7 linked regions of the Homo sapiens genome follow. The protein of the gene in region 4 purifies or fractionates together with the protein of the main gene of each other region. This does not show direct contact. Each region holds a gene or a part of one and is shown on either strand. Other genes may lie near its edges.

Region 1 (3,500 bases), on a different chromosome or scaffold from region 4:
AGGCTTGAATATACAGCCTAAGCACCAATTATGATAAATGCATATTGGTAAAATGTGACTTCTGGCTTTAAAAGACATTATTGACCTCCCTGGGGCTAAAGATTGCACCCATGTGAGTAATACACTGCTAAAGAATAATTCATTTTTTAAGATCTATAGAGGTTCTCCACTAGGCACAATTCATTGCTGAAGTTGGATCATGCAACAGTTTTACAAGAGAAGTAGGAAAACATACGTATACTGAATATAGTGCATATCACCATGAAGACTTTCAGCATGTAAGATTAAGACAGGACAGTGCTTTAAAACACTTGCATGGATTTGGGTTTGCCTATTCAAATGAAAGGGAATTCATTGAGATTTATATGGAAAAATTCCATGTTGGGGTTAATGGCCCACCACTCTGAACTGAGTCCAGTAAGAGCTTGAGGAATTTGGCTTTGTTAGTACAGACCTTCTCCTTGCACTCCTCTTCTCAGTATTCAACAAGCTGTCTTTGTTTAAAAATATGCAAAATGCACTGATTTTTGGAGTGGTTCATGTGACTTTTACTGCTCATTTTGTTAAAAATTCTGTCTTAAGTTAGAAGGTATTTTTTGCTTTCTTTTCAACATCTGAAGAACAATGCATCACACTTGGGAAAAAAACATTTCTTCACCTTATAATTGGTAATGTGCTACAATTACCTTTTAATTAAGATCTGAGCCTTTTACAAGTAGATTTTCTTCACATACTTAAAATAGATCGAAACTCTGTCTCAAAAAAAAAAAAAAAGATAATGAAGACTAAATGTTGATTCTGTATTAACAAATGGAGGCAGAGGAGAGTAAATGACTCTAGGGCAGACTTGCCAAACCCTAGCTTGGAGGGAGTCCCATATTGCCGTTCATGCAGAAAGCAGACACTATCATTAGTCTGAGGACTAACCCTAAAGGGGCCACACCCATTAAAGCTGAGGAGTGTCCAAATACCAGGGCAACAAAACGTCATGGCAAATAGTCTTCTCCAGATATGAAAACCCAAGACTGTGGTCTTCACATCTTTAATCCCCCAAATTCTTAAGTTGGTGTTCTGAGTCAGGACTCTATTTCAAAATAGGGTCTCACATCCAAGGAAATATGTCCTTCTGTAGAGCAGTTCTTACTTGACTATGCTTCAGGGAAAAGAGCAGCAGCATCTATAAACATACATGTATGTGTGTGAGAGTGTGTGTAATTTAAAAGGGGATCCAGAGCCCCTTCTTGATTATAAATTGGAAGTAACAATAGGCCAAACTGTCTCCTTAAATAAAACCACTGATACTAAAAAATTAAAAGATTAAACAGATCACAAAAAAATCAGACAGGTGGTGGAGAAGACCCCAAAGAGGAGTTACAAATTTAACACATTTGGGAAAGTAAAGATGACTTTAAAACAAACTAAAGATAAATCACAAACCCAAACTCAGCAGCCTAAGGGAACCTTCATAGGGGGAAACTAGGAGGCTCCAGCACTGTCAGGTCACACTCCTTTCTAGACTATGCAACCCTCTAGGGTTTCTTCCAGGGCTGTTGCATTGGCAGCAAAGCGGGACAGGCAGCAGTAGGCATGTGCTTTTTTTAAGTTTTTTTTTTTCTCTGCAAAGGGGCAATTATTCCTGGATAAGGCAAGATAATTGTGGTCACAAGAGAAGCAGCCAAATGCAGATCTGTTGAGCTAACAGGGGGAGTGTCTCAGTCAGTCTTTCCCAGCTTTGCAATCAGCTCATCACAGATTTTTGTCAGTTCTTCAATTTCTTGGTTCTGAAAGACAAATGACATAATTATGCAGGCCACTTTGTATTCTGAAATAAAGGCAAATAGAGTTAACTAGTCCCAAGTCTGGATCTACCCTACCCTAGACATCCTAATTCAGTGATTTTTAACTTTTCTACATCAGAGATGCTTTAAAGAAAAAAAGGCTACACACCTCAAAAAATGTACTCATAAAATCATGCTTAAATTGAGTAAAGGGTGAGGACAGTCACCAGCCCTCTGAAACTTGTCCATGAATCTCTTAGTTCCCCAATTTTCTTGTTATCAGAGGAATTATCTGGGGTACTTGTCAAAAACATAAGTATCTGGGTCTCACTCAATCCATTAGCATATCTAGGGATGCTGGAGTCTGAATCTCCCAGGGAGCACCGTTCTAGGGGCTAACAGACCCTGTGATAAAAACTCCTGCTCTTGATGAATGGATGGCACAGGTATGAGTACATAATTGGAAATGCAGTAAAGAAAATACACCGGAGACATATAAAAACGGAAAGCTAAAAATTGCTTAGTGAGAAACAGGGATTGTTGCTAGTCCTGGTTTTCATTTATCTATAGCAGTTTCTCAAAGCAGCCCTGCTGATGTTTTAGGATGGGTAAATGTGTTGTCAGAGGCTGTCCTGTGCATTGTAGGATGTTTAACAGCATCCCTGGCTTCCTGCACTAGATACCAGCAGCATCTCCCAGTGGTGACAACCAAACAAATATATCTCCAGACATTACCTAACACCTAACATCCCCTGGAGGGCAAAACTGCCCCCAACTGCAAACCACTGATCTAAAGCAATGAAGGGGGAAGATGGCTTCATATTAATATATTGCATAAAAAACAAAGAAAGAAAGAAAGGCAGTCTCATGACCCCAACTAGGAAGCTGTTCTGAACTTCAGTTAAAATGCAACTTCCTCTCTGCACCCTGCCTGTGGATGATTTCCACATGATGTGCTTGAAAATTTAATGGTTTGACTTGTTTGTTTCCACCTGGATCAGTTCAGAAAGGAGCTGGACTGAAATGTCTGAGTAGAAAGCCAAGGCCTCTTTCACCCAGATCTGTCATTAAGTGAGTCACTGCTGAGGAGGAAAACCAAACGTCTCTGTGGCCACCCAGATCAGGTCCCTTTCTGTACCTTCTGCTGCAGGGCCCTTTCCAGGGACTCCACCTTCATCTGCTCTTTGCGGAGTCCAGCATGGAGAGCTGCACTCTCAGCCTTTGCTTTTGTTCGAACCTGAGCAATCTCTTCATTGGCTCTGTTTATGGTGTTTGGGTGTAATAAAGAGACAAAAAGCACATGATTAGCCACTAGTCAAAGCCAGTCAGGATACTAACCACTGACATCTGTGAGGCACAGGCCTCAAAGAATTGACTGCATGAGAGAAAAAAAACAAAAATCGGTGACCTAAATAATTCCATTTTAATTTATAAAAATTCAATTTACAGACAACTTCAAAATTTGTATCTCACTAGCAAATGGTTTCTATAACAGTCTTAGATTTTTTTTTTTTTTTTAGACCAGTACAAAAGCAGACTGCATAATTTTGGAGACGATCACAGCTAGAGTTGGGATACTAACCACTGACATCTGTGAGACACGGGCCTACAGGGAATGAGTTTATTAATGAGATGTGAAAGGCATTCTTTTTTTTTTTTTTTTTTTTTTTTTTTGAGATGGAGTCTCGCTCTGTCACCCAGGCTGGAGTACAGTGGCGCAGT
Region 2 (3,500 bases), on a different chromosome or scaffold from region 4:
TTTAGAGACTTTTAATTCCAGTACAGCCTACTTTTCTACAGTGGCAGATGATCTTCACTTGCCCAGCTTTGCAATATATGCCGTATTTATAATGCTTTTTTATTGATATTTTAGGTCAGGTTTTCTTTATTTTCTTTTTTCTTTTCTTTTTTTTTTTTTCCAAGATAGGGTCTCACTCTGTTGCCCAGGCTGGAGAGGTGGTGAGATCATGGCTCACTGCAGCATCAAACTCCTAAGCTCAAGTTATCTTCCCACAGGTGCATACCACCCTGCTCAGCTAAAGGTTTTTTTAGAGATGGGGTCTTGCTATGTTGCCCAGGCTGGTCTCAAACTCCTGGCTTCAAGTGATCCTCCCACCTCAGTCTCCCAGGGCGCTGGGATTACTGTCAGGCATGAGCCATCTCGCCAGGCCCAGGTTTTCTCATTTTTATCTTCATTTTTACATATGAGGAACATTTTTTTTTTTTTTTGAGATGGAGTCTCGCTCTGTCGCCCAGGCTGGAGTGCAGTGGCACGATCTCTGCTCACTGCAACCTTCGCCTCCCGGGTTCAAGAGAGTCTCCTGCCTCAGCCTCCTGAGTAGCTGGGACTACAGGTGTGCGCCACCACGCCCAGCTAATTTTTAGGAGAGACGGGGTTTCACCATGTTCGTCAGGCTGGTCTTGAACTCCTAACCTCATGGTCCGCCCGCCTCGGCCTCCCACAGTGCTGGGATTACAGGCGTGAGCCACCGCACCTGGCCTAGGAACCTTAGACTCAGAGACGGTTAAGTGAATTTGTCCTAGGAGAGAGCTTTTAAGTGGCAGAACTGGGATTTGAAACCAGCTCTTCAGACTCCTAGTCCAGTATTTTTTTTTTTTTTTCCTGTGGAGGGCGATGAGAGCAGTGACAGAGAGGTGGACAGAGATCCTCCCCTGGTAAATTCTGGAGTAAAATGCTTTAGGACCAAGTTGCTGAATTGAACTGATACATCTCCATTAAAACCAGCAGCCTAAACTTTTTTGTTCTCTTGGCAAGAAATTCCACTTTCTTTCAGCAACGTGTATTTTTGTTTTGTCAGATAGGAATTTTGCAAGATCATAGCCTGTTGCAGCTAGAAGGGACATCTAGTTAAACTCCTTCGTGTAAAATGTTGTGAAAACTGAAACCTAGAGAGAGAAAGCAACTTGTAAAAGCTGCCACAGCAAATTAATGGTGGAGCTAGGTCTAGAACCCGGATCAGTTTGACTGTCTGGCGTTCTTTCTGCTACTGGGCTGTCTTTTGATAGAGCAGGAAAGAGAAGAGGAATCGTGTGGTACACTAGAAAAGAGCCCTGCACTGTGAGTCATTTTATTTCCTCATCTTTAAATTGAGGGGATTACACTCTTGAGAACCCTTCCAACTCTAAATGTCTTTATATTGAGGTTTAATAGTGTGCTTGTATTGATAAGCTTTTGTTCTTGGTAAATCTTTCGTGATTTTTTTTAATCTTTTCGTTTAACTTAATGGTATTTGGTACATAGTTCAAGACCCATAAATTTGAAATTAAGTATTTACTGGGTAAATTATATATGAGATGAATGCCCCTGCTAACTCATGTGGTTTATACTTACACATACTAAAGGCTGGCACTGAGAACATGTTGTAAAAATAAATGTAACATTTTCAGCACTCTTTTTTTTAGTGGCAGCCAAAATATTTTTGAGGCCTTGGAAGAAGGATAGAATCATAACATTTTTAGAGTAGGAAGGGACTGGAGATCATTTTAGCCCAGCCTTCCCTTTTAACTGAAAGTGAAATTTAGGGTCTGAGAGGGGAAGTGACACATTGCTAATAAGGGCAGACTTGGAACTAGAGCCCAGGTCTCTTGATTCCTCACTTATACCATGCTACCATGTCTGCGGAAGAAGGGAAAGTATTGCTGGCTATTCCTGCCATAGGTTTCTGGCACTTACCCTATTAGCTGGGCTTTTAAGATGGTTTACTTGACTGTTTCTTCATACCTTGCCTATCAGAGGTCTTGAACTATTTTAGAATCCTAAGTTTTGCTTACGAGTTTTTTCCAAGTGAAAGTGAAAAACAATGGCAAAATAGCTTGTCTAAGAACAGTGATTATTTGTATTATTTTATTCTTAGGCATTTAGTTAGTATTAACTGCAATCTACCATATTCAGATAGGAATAATGATAAAATCTTAAGTCATGGGAACTGAGACCAAACTGTCCTGAATAATTGTTAGGTCTGAAAAACAAAAAGGTGTGTAGCTGCCTTTGTTGAAAACTCAGCTTCTCACTTTACTTAGGTGTCAGAAACATTTCTCTCTGAATTGAAAATTGATACAAGTTTTAATTTAAAAAATACCTGTGCAATATTTATTACTTTAGGGAAGTTTCCTTAAAAATGGCTGTTTGTTGATGAGTTGACATTTGATCACAAATTTGATTACTGAAGGCTTTAAGGAGTGATAGAAGTATATTTACAAATGCTGTTTTATCGCACTCATGTAACATCATATTGAAGTGAGAAAAAACAACCCTCTACATATTAGTTAGTAAATTCAAGTTCTAAATTTAGTGACATCCGGCCGGGCACCATGACTCACGCCTGTAATCTCAGCAGTTTGGGAGGCTGAGGCGGGTGGATCACCTGAGGTCAGGAGTTCGAGACCAGCCTGGCCAACGTGGTCAAACCCCATCTCTACTAAAAATACAAAAATTAGCCGAGCATGGTAGCACACACCCAGCTACTTGGGAGGCTGAGGCAGGAGAATCGCTTGAACCCGGGAGGCGGAGGTTACAGTGAGCTGTGGTCATGCCACTGCACTCCAGCCTGGGCAACAGAGCAAGACTCCGTCTCAAAAATAAATAAATAAACAATTTATATTTAGTGACATCTGACTGTCAGTTGGTAACTCATGGGGGTAGGATAGTCCATAGTGGCATGGCAATTTGGGGGCTCAAGTTGAATCTGTATAAACTCCTGTAAATTGGAAACTGTATTCTCTTCTTGTGATAATCTACTTCATAAGATAGGACAGATAAAATTTGTGTTGTTTGTTTTTTGTTTTTTGTTTTTTTTTTTGAGACAGGGTCTCACTCTGTCACCCAGGCTAGAGTGCAATGGTGCAATCTCAGCTCACTGCAGCCTCGACCTCCCCAGGCTCAGGTGATCCTCCCACCTCAGCCTCCCAAGTAGCTGGGACCACATATGTGCACCACCACGCCCAGCTAATTTATATATATATATATATATATATATATATATATATTTTTTTTTTTTTTTTTTTTTGTAGAGATGGGGTTTCACCATGTTGCCCAGGCTAGTCTCAAACTCCTGGGCTCAACTGATCCACCCAACCTCGACCTCCCAAAGTGCTGAGATTACAGGTATGCACCACTGCACCTGTCCCTTGATTTTAAAAAATATTAAAAACCTAAATAGTTTTAGGATGTGAAGTATAGTGGTGGTCTTAAACAGAAAATAATTTCTAATTATTGGTATTTTAGACTTACTGTCTAAC
Region 3 (3,500 bases), on a different chromosome or scaffold from region 4:
TCTATTCAATTACAGTAGGTCAGAAGTGACAGCTTAGATAAAAAGTTAGCATGGCAGTACCTGAGTCATATTCCTAGTTATTTATTATCTTCAAGGCTCAGTACAAACAAGGAAAAGCCATTATTTTTCTTGCAGGCAAAAGAGGCAGTTAAAAGTTTGTTTATTTAACTTAGGTTGGGAGTTGCTCTTGCCTTAAAAAAAAAAAAAAAAAAAGGGAAAACTCCATGAAAGTAAAGATTAACTGATAATGCTTCTTTATCTTTGATGCACCTATCCCTTTTGGTTTTACTGTTTTCCTCTCCTCCCCAAGATTTTCCTATTTGTGTAAAATTGTACTAAGAGCACCTGGGAAGGCTGGGCATGGTGGCTCACGCCTGTAATCCCAGCACTTCGGGAGGCCGAGGTGGGCGGACCACCTGAACCCAGCAGTTCGAGACCAGCGTGGCCAACATAGTGAAACCCTGTCTCTACTAAAAATACAAAAATTAGCTGGGTGTGGTGGCGCGCACCTGTAATCCCACCTACTCAGGAAGATGAGGCAGGAGAATCACTTGAACCCAGGAGGCAGAGGCTGCAGTGAGCCGAGATCCTGCCACTGCACTCCAGCCTGGGCAACAGAGTGAGACTCCATCTCAAAAACAAACAAACAAAAAAGAAAACCTGGAGGATAAAAATTGTACCCAATACCTAGGACACTTTCTGCACAGAATAATATATAACCACTTAAGTAATAGCCATATGATAATTATGTCATTAAAATTTAAATTCTTGCATAGCTCTACACAAAAAATTACCATTTATATCTTCCAATAGGATCCCAAAATCCAGGCCTTGAAAGTTTACAGGGTCCTTCAGTTGCCTGCTTATAGAAGCTATAAAATTTAAGCATCATTTCATTTGTTGGCTGGAATGAACCTGTTGGAAACACACATTAAATACAAATCACCTGGGGAATACAACTGATAATCAGGTTATAAATTAGCTTAGCTATACTAATAGTGATTTTATATTGCATTAATACTTTAGATAATGATTTATTTCTAGCTTATAGAAACAAAAGTTATGGTTCTGTTAGTTGCTTGCTTCTTTGATTTCAAAACACTCTGAGATTTTAAACTTTAATAGCAATGCCTAAGATGGTTCAATAAATAAAAGAATACATGAATAGACATGCTGTAGATATAACCAAAATAACCTGCAAATGTCTCTTTAAAAACATACTAAAATATAGAATAACTATTATTAAGCAATCGTAATAAGGTACTTTTATTCAAAGCTTATGACAAATCAAAACTGACTAGTGTAAGTGAAAAAGTTATATGTATACTCTGCCAAATTTCAAATTCTCAGTAGATAAGGAATTTGGGGCTAAAGCCAAAGAGTATACACTATGGTAGAAAAAGAATTAATCTAAGATAAAATAGATTTCTCACTTCCTACCTCTGTAATTTTGGAGACATCAATTTGAGGATAATTCTTCATATATGTTTCTAGCATATCTATAGTTTTTCTCATGTTTAAAATTTTTAAATTGGCCAGTTGTGGTGGCTCATGTCTGTAATCCCAGCACTTTGTGAGGCTGAGGTGGGTGGATCACCTGACCCCAGGAGTTCAAGGCCAGCCTGGGCAACATAGCAAAACCCTGTCTCTACAAATAAAAACAAAAATTAGCTGGGTGTGATGGCACACCCTGTAGTCCCAGCTACTCAGGAGCCTAAGCAGAGAGGATCTCCTGAGCCTGGGGAGGTCAAGGATGCAGTGAGCTGTGATCACACCACTGCACTACAGCCTCGGTGACAGAGAAAGACCCTGTCTCAAAAAAAAAAAAAAAAAAATCAAATTGTATAAGCAAGTGCTATAAGTTGCAGTATTCTCAATAACTGAAAAATTGGAATGTTAATGTTTTATAATAGCTGTTTAAATAATTATGATATATAAATATAACAGGACAATTTATAACTGTAGCCCTAAAAAGTTATATTGTAGAAAAATATAAATAATGGTATAAGTTCCATGATCTACTATAAATTTAGAAAAATAAGTTTAAAAACAACATATGTAATATGATACCTTTTGGCAAAATATTTATATACATAAAAAGTACAGTAGAAAGATAAACATAAAATGTTTAAAGACTATCTCTGAATAGTAAGTATACAAATTATTTTCCTTTTCACTTATGTGTTTTTAAAAAAGTTTTAAACATCAGTGTATATTACCTTTATAACAAAATTTTAAAAATAACAATTGTAACAAGATATTTTTTAAAATTTGTAAATTGCATAAGCTAGCAGTTTATAAGAGCTGTGGGCCGGGCACAGTGGCTCACACCTGTAATCCTAGCACTTTGGGAGGCCGAGGCAGGCGGATCACCGGAGGTCAGGAGTTTAAGACCAGCCTGGCCAACATGATGAAACCCCGTCTCTACTAAAATACAAAAATTAGCCGGGCATGACGGTGGGTGCATGTAATCCCAGCTACTCAGGAGGCTGAGACAGAATTGCTTGAACCTGGAAGACGGTGGTTGCAGTGAGCCAAGATCACACCACTGCACTACAGCCTGGGCAGCTGAGCAAGACTTGGTCTCAAAAAAAAAAAAAAAAAAAAAGCTGTGCTGTGGAAATTACCACAGAGATAAACTGAGAACTAGTGTTTCAGGTTTGGCCGAGAGTGCATAATTAATTCTCAAATCACTATAATAATTATCTGTATAATATATGCACATTTAGGAGTACCTAATAGATAGTGTTCTAATGATACAATCCTTTATAAAGCAGAGGGAAAAAAATGGAGAAACCACAGTTTAAAATGGTCACTTATTTAAATAACACAAATCTAAATTTAAAACATCAAAAGTCTAATCTCAAAATATCTTCAGTAAGTCAACCAAATATGTTTATTGGCTTAGGTGAATGATATTAAAAATACAAAAACCGAGAACATTTATTGAGTGTAGTCTGTGTGTAAGACACTCAAGTAAGATTTCTGTCCTCAAGGTGCTCACACATGATGTACTTCATATGTATTTGAAATATTAGCTAAGAATTTTAATTTTAAAAGGTTAAGGTCATACCAAACATAGATGTCATAGGATTCATTACTATTTCAGGCCTTAAATAAGGATTGAGAAACAAGGAACAAAAAACTCCAAGATCTTGCTCTTTGCATAATGATTCAGAGCAAATCAAATGGTTTAAAAGTAGTATTACAAAAATATTTATAATCCATTATAACAAACTTCTGCTTCAATTAATATCAACTTAGTTTCAGGGGATAACAGTATACTGGATGTTGTCCAACACAAGTACCATTTGATAGGATATCTTTTTTTTTTTTTTTTGAGTTGGAGTCTGGCTCTTGTCACCCAGGCTGGAGTACAATGGCGCAATCTCAGCTGACTGCAACCTCCGCCTCCCGAGTTCAAGCGATTTTCCTGCCTCAACCTCCCGAGTAGCTGGGATTACAGGAACTCGCCACTACACTCAGCTAATTTTTGTATT
Region 4 (3,500 bases):
TCCCCAGCTGAAGCGGTTCTCCTGCCTCAGCCTCCCCAGTACCTGGATTACAGGCATGCACCACCACGCCCGGCTAACTTTTGTATTTTTAGTAGAGATGGGGTTTCACTATGTTGGTCACGCTGGTCTCGAACTCCTGACCTCAGGTGATCCACCCACCTCAGACTCCCAAAGTGCTGGGATTACAGGTGTGAGCCACTGTGCCCAGCCTTTTCCTTTATTTTTCTATCCCATTTCTCTTTCAAGCCTCTTTCTCTAGTCTCACTCCTCCTCTCATCTTCCTAACATAATAAATAAGAAAGCCAAGGGCACACTCCCACTTATCTTTTAAGGGAAGAAACACAGCCAGCATGACGACAAAAAAAAAAAAAGCCATAGCCTTTGCAATCAGACAGATCTTGATTCAAATCCCAGCTCCAACCCTCAGTCAGGTTCATAACTTGGGTTAATAACTTCAGGATCATAACTGTACCCACTTCCTAGGCTTGCATTAAGAATTAAATAAATGAACGCTTAGAAAAATGGCAAGCGCACAGTGTAAGCTCGCCAAGTCACATATCTCAAATGCCATCTTCCCTGTGAGATCGAACACCCAAAGCAGAATTAACACAGCTTTTTCTAAGCTCTCAATAAGGACAGGCCATAAATATCTTGTCCCCATTTTCCCTCGTCTCCCAATACCTAGAGGCTGGAAACTTTAAGGGCTAGGCCTTCCTCCCAGGTCCCCAGTGCAACCTAGTGCCTGGCCCACAGGAAGCTTTCAGTATGTGGTAACTGAACCAAATCTCAATCAGAGTCACGCTCAATTCCCCCAGAAGGAGTCATCTGTCTATAAAGAAAACCTCAAAGGATCTGCAAAGGGCAGAAACCCAAAACAGCTCTAATTTGGACAATCATCTCTTATGTACAGACAATCCCCGATTGGTTTGACTTGCGATTTTTCAATTTTACAATGGTGTGAAGCCATCATAATTTTGACATATTTTGAATTTTGATCTCTTCCCAGGCTAGTAATATGCAGTACATGAGATATTCAATACTTTATCATACAATAGGCTTTGTGCTAGATGACTTTGTGCAACTGGAGGCTAACTTAAGGGTTCTGAGTATGTTTAAGGTAGACAAGGCTATGATGTTGGGTAGGTTAAGCTGTATCTAATATGTTTTCAACTTATAATATTTTCAACTGACAATGGGTTTCTGAGGATGTAACTCCGCTGTAAGGTGAGGAACATCTGTAAGAGATCATTATATCCATGCATGTCTCTAAATCCTTTCTGATCCAATTCGTATGCCTGGCGTATCATCGTCTTGGAAAATGACGACTTCCCAAAGTGTATCTCATACAGAATAAAACAGCACTTTTTAATCACCTTAAGTTTACCTCTTTGAACAATTGAGACAAGTCTCTAGTTTATTAACTCACCCTTATTTGTTTCTCTGTCCAAGGCAATGGCTGGTCAGGAGCATGCAGAACTAAAGGTTTTGTAGCAACACTTACAAAGTTTAAGGTGGCACTGCTAAAGATCATTTATTTTAGACATTCCTATCTTAATAAGTGCCCTTTACAACTTCTTGAATTCCCACTCTACAAACCTGCAAGCCTATGAAATCTCTACCACACACAAGCTTTGCCCTGCCTTCCAAAGACTGGATAGCAGAAGGACAAATTACCCACAAGTTAATGTGTTTTGTTTTTTTTTTTTTTTGAGACAGAGTTTTGCTCTTGTTGCCCAGGCTGGAGTGCGATGGCGGGATCTCGGCTCACCGCAACCTCCGTCTTCCAGGTTCAAGCGATTCTCCTGCCTCAGCCTCCCAAGTAGCTGGGATTACAGGCATGCGCTACCATGCCCGGCTAATTTTGTATTTTTAGTAGAGATGGGGTTTCTCCATGTTGGTCAGGCTGGTCTCGAACTCCTGACCTCAGTTGATCTGCCTGCCTCAGCCTCCCAACGTGCTGGGATTACAGGCATGAGCCACCATGCCCGGCCGAATGCTTTCTAAATATATAGAATCAAGAAACCATCAGAATCTGATATAAAAGTGAATATTCACAAGAGAAATCAAACATTCTTTGGAGTCATCTGTCTGAACTTTTTCAAAAGTAGGGCAAGAAATCCCTCCTAAAAAATTCAGAGAATAACTCTTAATGAATTGATGTTCTTAAGAAATTGTCCTGACAGCTATTAATACTTCATTAATGGTTTTAAATTCTCTGCCTCCCTCTCTCAAGAACAAACCCCTTTATGAGTTAACTCTAATGAGCTGATACTGGTATGAGGGAAAGTACAAGGCTTTGCCTGTGCCACCATTTACTAGTGCAGCCTCATCCAGCAGAAAGTTACCTAGCCACTGACTAAGTCATCTCATACGATTGTTACACAGATTAAACAGTAACATAAATATGGCAAAGCACCTCTTACCACAGTTCCTAAACTGTGTGGCCTATCTTCTGGAATTAAAGCATTTATCCTCTAGAAATGTTTGTTCCTTCTTTACCTTTCTTTACCCTTATATTGCAAAATGTATGTCAGCCACTGCTTTTAACTCCAGACCCGACCCAACGGGGTGTTGGGGGGCACATTTCACCACTCACACATATGACCACTCCCAGATCCTTAGGTTCCATTTTCAATTCCCCTCCATTCTCTGAGCACCCTTCAGCCTTTCAAGACAACTCAAGGAACTTAGAGCTCTAAACCACATCACAAGGAAGTAATTTAAATCTAGGTAAATGGTCTAGGGGTACATCCCATTGTCTTAAAGTACAAGCTAAAAGATGAAAAACACTGCAGTCTCAATCTACCCCTAAAACATTTATTGCCCTAGTCTCCACTTCCCAGATGGGCAAAGGCTGAAGGAGCCTACTGAAATGCCAACAATGTAGTAATTGAAACACATTATAGGTATCGGCCAATGTGCCCTACACAACACGAGGTGGGCATGCACACACACACCCCCCAAAAGCGTGAAGACATCACTTGACACAGGTGAAAATACTAACATGCTAACCAAAGGTCAATATTAGCCCTTCTGAAAGGATGAAGGAAAACTCCAAGAAAGCATTTCTGTAGCTTTACAGTTCTATGCAATAAAAAAATGTTATTAAAAGAAAGTATTCCAAGGTTTTCTCACGGGACTATGCCATTTTCTCAACTGCTTCCCAACCCCCAAACCCCCATGCAAGGGGGGTTTGTCTTTGTCTACAAAGACAGTGTTTGTAGACATCAACAGCTTCTGTTAAAAGGATGCATTTAACAGTTTGAAAAATATTCTAGAGATAGTATTTTACCACATTCAGTTATTTTGTTTGTTTTTTAAATAATCCTCAAGTGACTGTCAAGTTTAGTAACTTTGTTTCCATACCAAAGCTCTTTAAACAACTCTTCCTTGTGTAAAGCCAGCTGCCCACATCTGTCAGGTAAGAACTTCAAAGAACGCACATACCCACTGAGCAAGGCCAAAGCAATCCTGGATATGCTATGCTGATAACAGCCTGA
Region 5 (3,500 bases), on a different chromosome or scaffold from region 4:
TGGCTCATGGTTCTGCAGACTGTAGAAGAAGCATACTGCCAACATCTGCTTCTGATGAGGGCCTCAGGAAGCTTTCAATGATGGCAGAAGGCAAAGAGGGAGCAGGCATGTCACAGGCAAAGAGAGGGAGCAAGAGAGAGGGGGAAGTGCCATGTTTGTTTTAAAAAAACAACCAGTTATTGCATGAACTAATAAAGCAAGAACCAGCTCATTACCCATTGGGAGGACACCAAGCCATTCATGAGAGATCCTCCCCCATGACCCAAACGCCTCCCATTAGGCCCCACCTCCAACACTGGGGATCACATTCCAACATGAGATTTGGAGGGGACAAACATATAATGTTCTTACCATGACCCTGGTAGTTGTAACAGAAGGAAGTATAATGGGCCATTATATTTTTAATTTTTAAAAATATCAATATACTGTTTTGAGAATAAATTTTACAATGTTAAATGTGTTTTCTTTATTTTATTTTATTTTAATTTATTTTGAGATAGAGTCTCACTCTGTCACCCAGGCTGGACTGCAGTGGTGCAATCTCACCTCACTGCAGCCTCTGCTTCCTGGGGTCTAGTGATTCTCCTGCCTCAGCCTCCCAAGTAGCTGGGATTACAGGTGTGCGCCACCACACCTGTAGATGGAGCCTGGCTAATTTTTGCATTTTTAGTAGAGACAGGGTTTCACCATGTTGGCCAGGCTGTTGTTGAACTCCTGACTGCAAGGGATCTGCCCACCTCAGCCTCCCAAAGTGCTGGGATTACAGGCGTGAGCCACCACACCTGGCCTTAAATTTGTTTTTAAAAATATCATTAAGGATAGTAGCTATATAATTATTTTCACACATTCTCAAGTGCTATAATCTATGAAAAAATAATTATTATAATAATTAACTCCAAAAAGATATGCATGTTTATCTGGGATTCAATTAATTTAATGCAAAAGCCTTAAAATGGTCATAACTTCTTCAAATTAATCCTATAAAATATAAAAATAATCCTAAATATGTACAAATATTTAGTTATAAAGATGTTTATCATGGCATTTTTTAATAGCAAAACATTAAAAACAGCCTAGATGGCCAATGATTGGTTAAATAAATTATAGTATATCCTTATGATTTAATACAAAATAGTATTGTAGAACAACTCTTTATAAAGAAAAATGTTAACTAAACATTATGTTTTGAAAGATCCAAATTCTGGAGCTGGGCTGGGTGCAGTGGCTCAGGCCTGTATTCCCAGCACTTTGGGAGGCCAAGGCAGGCAGATCACTTGAGTTCAGGAGTTCAAGATCGACCTGGGCAACATGGTGAAACTCCACCTCTACCAAAAATACAAAAAATTAGCCGGGTATGGTGGCACATGCCTATAGTCCCAGCTACTTGGGAAACTGAGATGGGAGGATCGCTTGAGCCTGGGAGGCAGAGGCTGCAGCGAGTCGAAATCCCACCACTGCACTCCAGCCTGGGTGACACGGTAAGACTCTGTTTAAAAAAAAAAAATTGGAGCTGGTAGAAATTTGTGTGTCTATACACAAAATAGAGTATATATACAAAAATTAACAGTCATTACCTTTTGGCAGAATTATGTATACTTTTTTTTACCTTTTTGTTTTTTCCTGTAGTTTCAAAATTTTCTCCAGTGAAGATATACATTTGGAAATCATATTAAAATGTTATTAGGGAAAAAGTGCTTCTCACACCTTAATGTGCATATAAATCAGCTGGGAAATCTTGTTAAAATGCTGATTCTGACTAAGTAGGTCTAGGTGGGACCTGGGATTCTTCCTCCTAACAAGCTCCCAGGAGATGCTAATAATGCTGGACAGGGACCACACTTTGAGTAGCAAGCTGTCTTCTAACTCTGTCATATGGCTATTTTTGCAAAGCACAAGCAAGTAAAAGCTTCTCGTTATGTTAGTACAGTTGATATAGTACTTGCATTGCTAAATGGCTCATGGAATGATTTCCTGATTTCAACATCATTTAATATCCCAACTATTTTAGTTTTACTATAAAGTCTGCTTGTTACTTAAATTTTTATTGGAAATCATGATAAAAATACACAGGTAACACTGAAAATTGGTATTTACTAGAGCCAGGTCAGCATTTGACTGCTTTTGGTTAATGGCCATGGGCTTTTAAAATAAATTGCAAAGATCACAATAGCACAAATTAGTAAGAAGCTCATTTGTGTAATACTGCAGTGATGTTTAATGTTAATTTAACAAATAACTCAAGATTTATTGAAAATTATGCTAGTAATACTGAAATAAACTGACAAGTTATTTGCCTTCAAGGAGTTCAAAATCAAACATGAGAGACAGATACATAAGGATTAATAGTAATGCATTTTAAATATTATAAACTATAATATATATAGTATACAAACTATACCATATAAATACTATAAATAAACCACAATAAAAGTTAAGTATAAGATGATATAAGAACATAAGGAAGAGCACAGACTCTAAGAAGGATGAAGGATAGATGAATAGGATACATTGGTGGTTTTGTTACAGAGATGATACCTGAGAGGATGCCTAAAGTATGGGCAAATCTCACCACTGGTAGAAGTGAAGAAAGAGAATTCCAGACAGAAGCAGCAACTTGAACAAGCACTGTTGTAAAAGGAATCCATTATCTGACTATTCATTGCCATGCTGACTGTCACGTCAAAAGCGTTAGTTCTAATTAAATGCCCAGCAAAAACGGAAGATGTATAGTAGCTATACACATTTCTCTGTAGTAAAGTAAGTTAACTTATCCTGTATTATGCTAGTTAAAATCTTTAGGCTCTTTTAACAAAGGTTGCATTATATTATTTTCCACTTTAAAAAACTGCATTGGCTCCCCACTAATACAGCGTAGTACAAAATTCTGGATGTCTAATAGAAAACTTTTAAAGTTTAAATCCAGAACCTAATTTTCTAGACAGTATCTTACTAAACCTTTTAAGTAAGTTCTAAATGTTCATATTTTCAAATACTTGTGTATGTTATTTTCTTAAAATAACCTTCTTCTCTAGGTCTCAAAATTCTATTCATTCTTTAATATTTTTGAAGTCCCCCATTTTCTCTTTAGTAACAACTTTTTTCTTACACTTAGCTTCCACAGTAAGCTTAGACATTTTAAAGCAACTATTTCATTATGCCTTGAATATTATATTATGTTTGCTCTTCTTTTTGGGGGTAAGAACTAGATCTTATTTTTCCTGGAAACTTGCTTACTTACTATGATATAGTAAATACTCAAAAAAGTTTTACCAAATGAGTAGAAATTGACTATTATCAAGAAGCTTATGGAATAGTTTCAAGTGGAAAAAGCTGATAAAAAGACAAAGGTGGAAAGTCTTTTAGCTGAGAAGTTAAAATGATACAGATTCAATGGGCTAACAAATAGGAGGTAAACTGTCTGAGAGATTGTATAAAATTTGCAAAGGTAAAACTGACTGAAGTGGTCTACTGTAACCACTTTATGATTTTGCTAGAGGACA
Region 6 (3,500 bases), on a different chromosome or scaffold from region 4:
GTGCAGTGGGTGTCACAGCAGTGGCCGGGCCAGTGAGTAGGGGGAGCTTTGACATGGGGTGGCTGACCATACTCGCCTCTGAGTCCCTGGGTGCTTGGGCCCCATCCTCAATGCCTTTAGCTGCCTCGGCTCCAGGCTCTGCAGGGCAACGAAGCCAGTGAGAGGGACGGAGAGGACCACTGGGATCCCCTCATCTGGCACTTCAGGCACCCCAGTTCTGGCATCTGCCTGAGGCCCCCAGTCCCTACCTTCCTCCAAACTTCTCCTCCCACCAACTCTCCCAGGTCAGTTTGTATTTCCAGGCCTTTGCTCCTACTGGTCTTATTGCAGTCAGGGCTGCCTCTCCACACAATGCCTGTTTGCCTGGCAAACTTCTCTAACCCTGCCCTGTCCAATGTGGTGGCCATTAGCTACAAGTGGCCATTTAAATTTAAATGAATTAAAATATAATACATAAAAACCTCAGTTCCTCAGTCACACTAACCCCATTTTCAGTGCCTGGGAGCCAGTGTGGCTGGTGGTTATTGCCTTGGGCAGCATGGACCTAGAAGTTCTGCTGGACAGTGCTGGCCCAAGTCCTCCAAAGCCAGCATAGACATCACCTCTCAAGTGAAGCATTCAGGGAGTCCAAATTAATTCCTTCATTCTTAGTGCTATGTCTGAATCATGACTACATTCTAATCATCCATCCATCCACCCATCCATCCATCCATCCATCCATCCATCCATCCACCATTCATTATTCGTCTATGTATTTAATGAGCACCTCTTCAGATTGCCTCTCATCTTAAGATGCCATTAAACTCATGACCTGCTGTACACGGGTGCTGGGGGCCGGTGTCCTAGGCGGTATCTTTACCTGGCGTTCCCTCTGCCTCCACTGGGGAGGCAAAGGCATCAATGAAGTCATTGGAGTTCCACTTGGTCATCTCCTTGGGGAAGACCTCCTCACTGTCCGAGAAGCCTTCTGAGGGGACAGGGGGCTGTGTCATGGGGTGGGAGGAGCTGCTCGGGGACATCCCCACTCCCAAAAAGGGCCTCAGTGCTGACCGTGGGCATCAAAGAACTCTTCCTCGGAGCTGTTCTCAGAGTCTCGGGCAATGTTCTGCATGCGCCACTCAGACAAGCTCTGGGGAGACACAGCCCCTGCCGGGCCAGCTCAGCCTCAGCCTCAGCCCAGGAGCCCAGCCTGGGGAGGGCCGTTCCTCCCATCCCTGTGCCCCAGCCTCACCTCCATGTTGGGATGAGTAGGAGGAACGGGAGGATGAGGACCACTGCTTCCCAAAGCTGGCATCGGGGGAGGCATCTGGGCCTGGGGGGGCCTCAGGCCCATCGGGGGTGCCAGTGTTGCTGGCCGCAGACCGGGCCTCGGTGCTCGGTTTCCCGGGGGGCTGGGCCTCGGACCCCTCACTGCCTGTGTTGCACTTGGCCATGCGCTGGGCCAGCATGCGAGCAGTCTCCTCTTCCAGTGCCCGGATGTCAGCCATGCTCAGCTCTGTCCACTCATCCTGCCAGCACCAGGCCTGGCGGTGGGCCCGCAGCATCACCCGACGCAGACCTGCAGGTGCCCAGGCGTCAGAACTGCCCCCTCCCCCTGCTTCCCTGCCACCGCAGCTACATGCCCAGCCTTGAGGTTGGATAATGGCTCCCCTGGGGACACCACCCACCCAGAGCCACAAAGTAGGGCAGGGCCAGTGCAGTCCAGGAATGGGAGTGGAAAGTGGGGCATTTGTCTTCCTGCCTGACTCCCCCCCGCCCACTGCCTTTCCTGTCTCTCTGCACACCCTAACTCTCAGCACTGTCCCCACCCCATCACTCCAGAAGCAGGGACCAATGCTTGTTCTTGCTTTTGGCTGGCTTCCTGCTGACTTCTGAGGAATTAACAGTTAATTAAGGGTTTAACAGTTAATGAAATTGTTGATGGTTAATGAAGGTGTTAACAGTTAATGGAAGTGTTGGCACTCAATGAAGGTTGTAGCGAAAGATGATACCCATTCTGGGATATTTTTATCTTAAGCAGAAGAAAAAGTTAGAAACTCTTAAATGTCTAGGAAATAAAGTAATGATGGTTGAATGATAATTATAAACTTCTGCGAGGAGATATATTGGAATCTTAGTAGTGGCTATATTTTTCTTATTTGTGCTTTTTGGCATTTTTCCAAATGCAAGACAAGGCGTCCTCATTATTCTCTAAGCTGAATTTCCTCACCTGTAAAATGGGAATAATCATCGTCATTACCTGGTGGGGTGTTGTGGGTGTTAAGGGAGATCTTGCACAAAAAGTAATTAGCCATGGGTCTGTGTGTCGCAATCACTGTCAGTATTAGCTCTTCATATCTGACTCAACCTCTTCCTCATTTACTGAAGAGAAATTTAAAGTGCAGAGATGGCCAGTGCCTTGCTGGAGGTACCATGGGGTGGGGGTCAGTAGTGGGACAGAAGCCAGGCCGCTGGTCTCTCCAACTAGGGACCATCCCTCTGTGTGCAGATGACCTGGGCACTGAGGCAGGGCTGAATTGTAGGCGTGGTGGGGTCAGGTTGAGGGGAGGTGTGGGACTGGGGCTCCTGAACACCAGGGCCAAAGGCTGGAACACTAGAAACTGGGAGTGGAGGTGGGGAATCCCAGAGAGAATGACATCAGAGTCACAGCCTCAGCCTGCACTCCTTAGCATGCTGCCAGTTAGAGCCGGTGACCTTCCTGAGTGTCTCTAAGTCTCATCTAACTCATAGGATGATGGAGAATCTTAGAATCTTAATGGAAGCAGCAGCATTTCTGAATGTCAGAGCCAGTATGGACCTTGTAGATCATGTTACCAGCTTCCTGCTCTGTGGATGCCTGGCTAGGCTGTGCGGCCGCTTCTGCCCTAGTGCTCCCCACCTCAAATGGAAACGATGGCTTTCTGCTTCTGTGTCCCCAGTGGATGGGAGCATCCCTGGCCCTAAACATGGGGTCTGGGGCATGCTGGGTAAGTGGGACCTCCCGCAGCTGGGTGCTCACCTACATCATGGATGAACTGCTCGATCTTGGCTTGCATGCCCCAGTAGCGGAACTCAACCTTGCACAGCTTATAGGCACACATAAGGGGCCCCGTCTGTGCCGCCGTCCGTGCCCAGTCATCAGACAGTGGCCCTCGGCCCGTCTTGACCGAGTGATAAAGCCGGGGGTCCTCTTCTGCTTTGTACTCGCCTGGGGCCACTGCATCCCGCACGATGTCGATGGTGTCTGAGGGAGTTCGGCAAGCATTGAGCAGCGCCAGCCCCTTTGAGCCCCCGCTCCTGGCACCCTCTTGGGACTGGATGACAGTTCCCGTCCTTTTGCAGACAGGACATGAGGCCTGGAGAGGGCTGGGACTTCTCAGAGGCTGCCCACTGAGGCAGCCAGGAGCCTGAGAGGGGCGCCAGGGTCCCCCCATAGCTCCAGGCCTCACCCAGGATGCGCTGTCTCCTCTCGGCCCCGCTCAGGTTGAAGACGTTTGGCTGCTGCCCCCCATCAGGCAGGT
Region 7 (3,500 bases), on a different chromosome or scaffold from region 4:
AAAACATAAAATTAGCCAGGCATGGTAGCACTCCCAGCTACTCGGGAGGCTGAAGCATGAGAACTGCTTGAATCTGGAAGGCGGAGGTTGCAGTGAGCCAAGATTGTGCCACTGCCCTCTGCCCTAGGCGACAGGGCAAGACTCTGTCTCCAAAAAAAAAAAAAAACAGAGACAGGGCCTCCACATACCACCCAGGCTGGTCTCAAACTCCTGGGCTCAAGTGATCCACCTGCCCCAAAGTACTGGGATTACAGGTACAAGCCACTATACATGGCCAATATTTTGTTAGAAGTGAGAAAAGTAGGGAAGGGAAAATAAGGTGAAATGAGAGCAGGCAGAGTGGGACAGGGCACAGAAGCTAAACGCTGTGCAGATGACTCCAGGTTTCCCAGGACAGACACAAAATTAGGCTGCCTGAGTGTCTCTCAGGGTCCTCTTCCATATTAGTCTCAAGACTTCTTGTTCCAATTCTAGGCCGGGCGCAGTGGCTCACACCTGTAATCCCAGCAATTTGGGAGGCTGAGGCGGGCAAATCAGGAGGTCAAGAGATGGAGACCATCCTGGCCAATATGGTGAAACCCTGTCTCTACTAAAAACACAAAAAATTAGCTGGGCGTGGTGGCACGCACCTGTAGTCCCAGCTACTCAGGAGGCTGAGGCAGGAGAATTGCTTGAACCCGGGAGGCGGAGGTTGCAGTGAGCCAAGATGGCACCACTGCACTCCAGCCTGGCGACAGAGCAAGACTCCGTCTAAAAAAAAACCAAAAAAAAAAAAACAAAACACTTATTTTTCCAATTCTAAAGATAATACTTTCCTTTTGCAACAATAATACACAATTAAAATTTATTTTCACAGGAGACTTTTGCTTCTTATTTTTTTAACAGAGACAGCGACTCTCTATGTTGCCCAGGCTGGTCTTGAATTCCTGGCCTCAAACAATCCTCCTGCCTCCCAAATTGCTGGGATTACAGGTATGAGCCACCACACTCAGCTAATTTATGTTCTTTCTCTTTTTAAAAAAAAATTATTTATAGAGACAGGGTCTCTCTATGCTGCTCAGGCTGGTCTCAAACTCCTGGACTCAATAATTCTCCCGACTTGGCTTCCCAAAGTGCTGGGATTACAGGTGTGAGCCACCACACCCGGTCTACTTTTGCTTTTTTTTTTTTTTTTTTTTTTTTTTGAGACAGAGTCTTACTCCATAGCCCAGGCTGGAGTGCAGTGGTGTGATCTCGGCTCACTGCAACCTCTGCCTCCCGGGTTCAAGCGATCCTTCTGCTTCAGCCTCCTAAATAGCTGGGATTACAGGCATGCACCCCCATGCTTGGCTAATTTTTGTATTTTTAGTAGAGAGGGGGTTTCACCATGTTGGCCAGGCTGGTCTGGAACTGCTGTCCTCAGGTGACCCGCCCACCTCAGCCTCTCAAAGTGCTGAAATCACAGGCTACTTTTGCTTCGTTTTTTTTTTTTTTTTGAGATAGAGTCTCGCTCTGTCGCCCAGGTTGGAGTGCAGTGGCACAATCTCGGCTCACTGCAAGCTCCACCTCCATAGATGCCTGCCACCACACCCGACTAATTTTTGTATTTTTAGTAGAGACAGGGTTTCACCGTGTTGGCCAGGCTGGTCTCAAACTCCTGACCTCGGGATCCGCCTGCTTTAGCCTCCCAAAGTGCTGGGATTATAAGCATGAGCCACCGCGCCTGGCCTTACTTTTGCTTCTTAAAACAAGTTTCAGCTGGGCACGGCGGCTCACACCCATAACCCCAGCACTTTGGGGGGCCAAGGCGGGAAGATCTCTTGAGGCCAGGAGTTTGAGACCAGCCTGGCCAACACAGACCAGCCTGGCCAACACAGACCAGCCTGGCCAACATGGTGAAACCCCATCCCTACCAAAAATACAGAAATTAGCTGGGTGTGGTGGCTCATGCCTGTAATTCCAGCTACTCGGGAGGCTGAGGCAGGAGAATCGCTTAAACCCAGGGGGTGGAGGTTGCAGTGAGCCGAGACTGTGCCATTGCACTCCAGCCTGGGTGACAGAGTGAGACTGTGTTTCAAAAAAAACAAGTCTCCCAAGATGAGAACTCCTGGCCTTGCAAAGAGATCAAGACAACACTTCAATGCAGCAAACACCGGGTCTGTATTACAAGATTAACAGGAGCCGTAAGAGTTTTTACAACCACAGCAGCAGCCACAAAATAGAGCAGTGGCTACCAGAGCTGACACAGAAGGACACAGGGCATTTAGAGAGTGATACAACGATAGAACAGTTCTTTTTTTTTTTTAAGACTAGTTAAGTGTAGTAGTGAGAAGCTGGGAAAAAGAGTAGAAGAAGGGGCCAGGCACGGTGGCTCATGCCTGGCTCCCAGCACTTTGGGAGGCCAAGGCGGGTGGATCACGAGGTCAGGAGTTCGAGACCAGCCTGGCTAACATGGTGAAACCCCAACTCTACTCAAAATACAAAAATTAGCCGGGCGTGGTTTCATGCACCTGTAATCCCAGCTACTCGGGAGGCTCAGGCAGGAGAATTGCTTGAAACCGGAAGGCAGAGGCTACAGTGAGCAGAGACCAGACCACCGCACTCCAGCCTGGGAAACACAAGCGAAACTCTGTCTCAAAAAAAAAAAAGCCGGGCAGGTTGGCTCATGCCTGTAATCCCAGCACTTTGGGAGGCCGAGGCAGGCGGATCACGAGTTCAGGAGATCAAGGCCATCCTGGCTAATACAGTGAAACCCTGTCTCTACTAAAAATACAAAAAATTAGCCGGGCTTGGTGGCACGCACCTGTTGTCCCAGCTACTCCGGAGGCTGAGGCAGAAGAATCGCTTGAACCCGGGATGCAGAGGTTGCAGTGAGCCAAGATCATGCCACAGCACTCCAGCCCGGGTGACAGAGAGTGAGACTCCGTCTCAAAAAAAAAAAAGAGTAGAAAGATGGCCGGGGCCGGGTGCGGTGGCTCACACCTGTAATCCCAGGATTTTGGGAGGCTGAGGTGGGCGGATCACTTGAGCTCAGGAGTTCGAGAGCAGCCTGGCCAACGTGGCGAAATCCCGTCTCTACTAAAAATACAAAAATTAGCCAGGCATGGTGGCACGTGCCTGTAGTCCCAGCTTTTCGAGAGGCTGAAGCAGGAGAATCTCTTGAACCTAAGAGGCCGAGGCTGCAATGAACCGAGATTGTGCCACTGCCCTGCAGACTGGGTGACAGAGCAAGACTCCATCTCAAAAAAAAAAAAAAAAAAAAGAGAGAACAGAAGGAGTGTGATCTGTGACTGTGAGCAATCGACTGAGTGAACTCACTACCTTCCAACCAGCTGAATGATTCCTAACTATGGTGGTGGTCGGATGACTCTATGTGTCAAAGACACAGAATAGTATGCTAAAAAGTACGAATCTTACTGCATGCAAATTAACCCTCAAATTTTTTTTTTTTTTGAGACGGAGTCTCGCTCTGTCACCCAGGCTGGAGTGCAGTGGCGCAATCTCGGCTCACTGCAAGCTCC

What was found.
Region 1: the proteins of VAPB (region 4) and TACC1 purify together in Homo sapiens (affinity purification with mass spectrometry; 5 studies listed by BioGRID and IntAct, with this or other methods). This does not show direct contact.
Region 2: the proteins of VAPB (region 4) and WDR44 purify together in Homo sapiens (affinity purification with mass spectrometry; 6 studies listed by BioGRID and IntAct, with this or other methods). This does not show direct contact.
Region 3: the proteins of VAPB (region 4) and ACBD5 purify together in Homo sapiens (affinity purification with mass spectrometry; 6 studies listed by BioGRID and IntAct, with this or other methods). This does not show direct contact.
Region 5: the proteins of VAPB (region 4) and PRKACB purify together in Homo sapiens (affinity purification with mass spectrometry; 4 studies listed by BioGRID and IntAct, with this or other methods). This does not show direct contact.
Region 6: the proteins of VAPB (region 4) and PITPNM1 purify together in Homo sapiens (affinity purification with mass spectrometry; 7 studies listed by BioGRID and IntAct, with this or other methods). This does not show direct contact.
Region 7: the proteins of VAPB (region 4) and MIGA2 purify together in Homo sapiens (affinity purification with mass spectrometry; 5 studies listed by BioGRID and IntAct, with this or other methods). This does not show direct contact.

What each region holds. Positions count from the first base shown.
Region 1 is NC_000008.11:38,846,236-38,849,735, reverse strand, and holds part of TACC1 (transforming acidic coiled-coil-containing protein 1), read right to left. Parts: intron 3,038-3,500; coding exon 2,917-3,037; intron 1,782-2,916; coding exon 1,713-1,781; 3' UTR 1-1,712. UniProt on the Homo sapiens protein: Involved in transcription regulation induced by nuclear receptors, including in T3 thyroid hormone and all-trans retinoic acid pathways. Might promote the nuclear localization of the receptors.
Region 2 is NC_000023.11:118,349,106-118,352,605, forward strand, and holds part of WDR44 (WD repeat-containing protein 44), read left to right. Parts: intron 1-3,500. UniProt on the Homo sapiens protein: Downstream effector for Rab11 which regulates Rab11 intracellular membrane trafficking functions such as endocytic recycling, intracellular ciliogenesis and protein export.
Region 3 is NC_000010.11:27,234,298-27,237,797, forward strand, and holds part of ACBD5 (acyl-CoA-binding domain-containing protein 5), read right to left. Parts: intron 916-3,500; coding exon 795-915; intron 1-794. UniProt on the Homo sapiens protein: Acyl-CoA binding protein which acts as the peroxisome receptor for pexophagy but is dispensable for aggrephagy and nonselective autophagy. Binds medium- and long-chain acyl-CoA esters.
Region 4 is NC_000020.11:58,395,729-58,399,228, reverse strand, and holds part of VAPB (vesicle-associated membrane protein-associated protein B/C), read right to left. Parts: intron 1-3,500. UniProt on the Homo sapiens protein: Endoplasmic reticulum (ER)-anchored protein that mediates the formation of contact sites between the ER and endosomes via interaction with FFAT motif-containing proteins such as STARD3 or WDR44.
Region 5 is NC_000001.11:84,147,271-84,150,770, reverse strand, and holds part of PRKACB (cAMP-dependent protein kinase catalytic subunit beta), read right to left. Parts: intron 1-3,500. UniProt on the Homo sapiens protein: Mediates cAMP-dependent signaling triggered by receptor binding to GPCRs.
Region 6 is NC_000011.10:67,498,864-67,502,363, forward strand, and holds part of PITPNM1 (membrane-associated phosphatidylinositol transfer protein 1), read right to left. Parts: coding exon 3,429-3,500; intron 3,224-3,428; coding exon 2,999-3,223; intron 2,362-2,998; exon of another isoform or gene 2,295-2,361; coding exon of another isoform or gene 2,240-2,294; intron 1,559-2,239; coding exon 1,232-1,558; intron 1,147-1,231; coding exon 1,051-1,146; intron 968-1,050; coding exon 860-967; intron 139-859; coding exon 77-138; intron 1-76. UniProt on the Homo sapiens protein: Catalyzes the transfer of phosphatidylinositol (PI) between membranes. Binds PI, phosphatidylcholine (PC) and phosphatidic acid (PA) with the binding affinity order of PI > PA > PC. Regulates RHOA activity, and plays a role in cytoskeleton remodeling.
Region 7 is NC_000009.12:129,043,126-129,046,625, reverse strand, and holds part of MIGA2 (mitoguardin 2), read right to left. Parts: intron 1-3,500. UniProt on the Homo sapiens protein: Regulator of mitochondrial fusion: acts by forming homo- and heterodimers at the mitochondrial outer membrane and facilitating the formation of PLD6/MitoPLD dimers. May act by regulating phospholipid metabolism via PLD6/MitoPLD.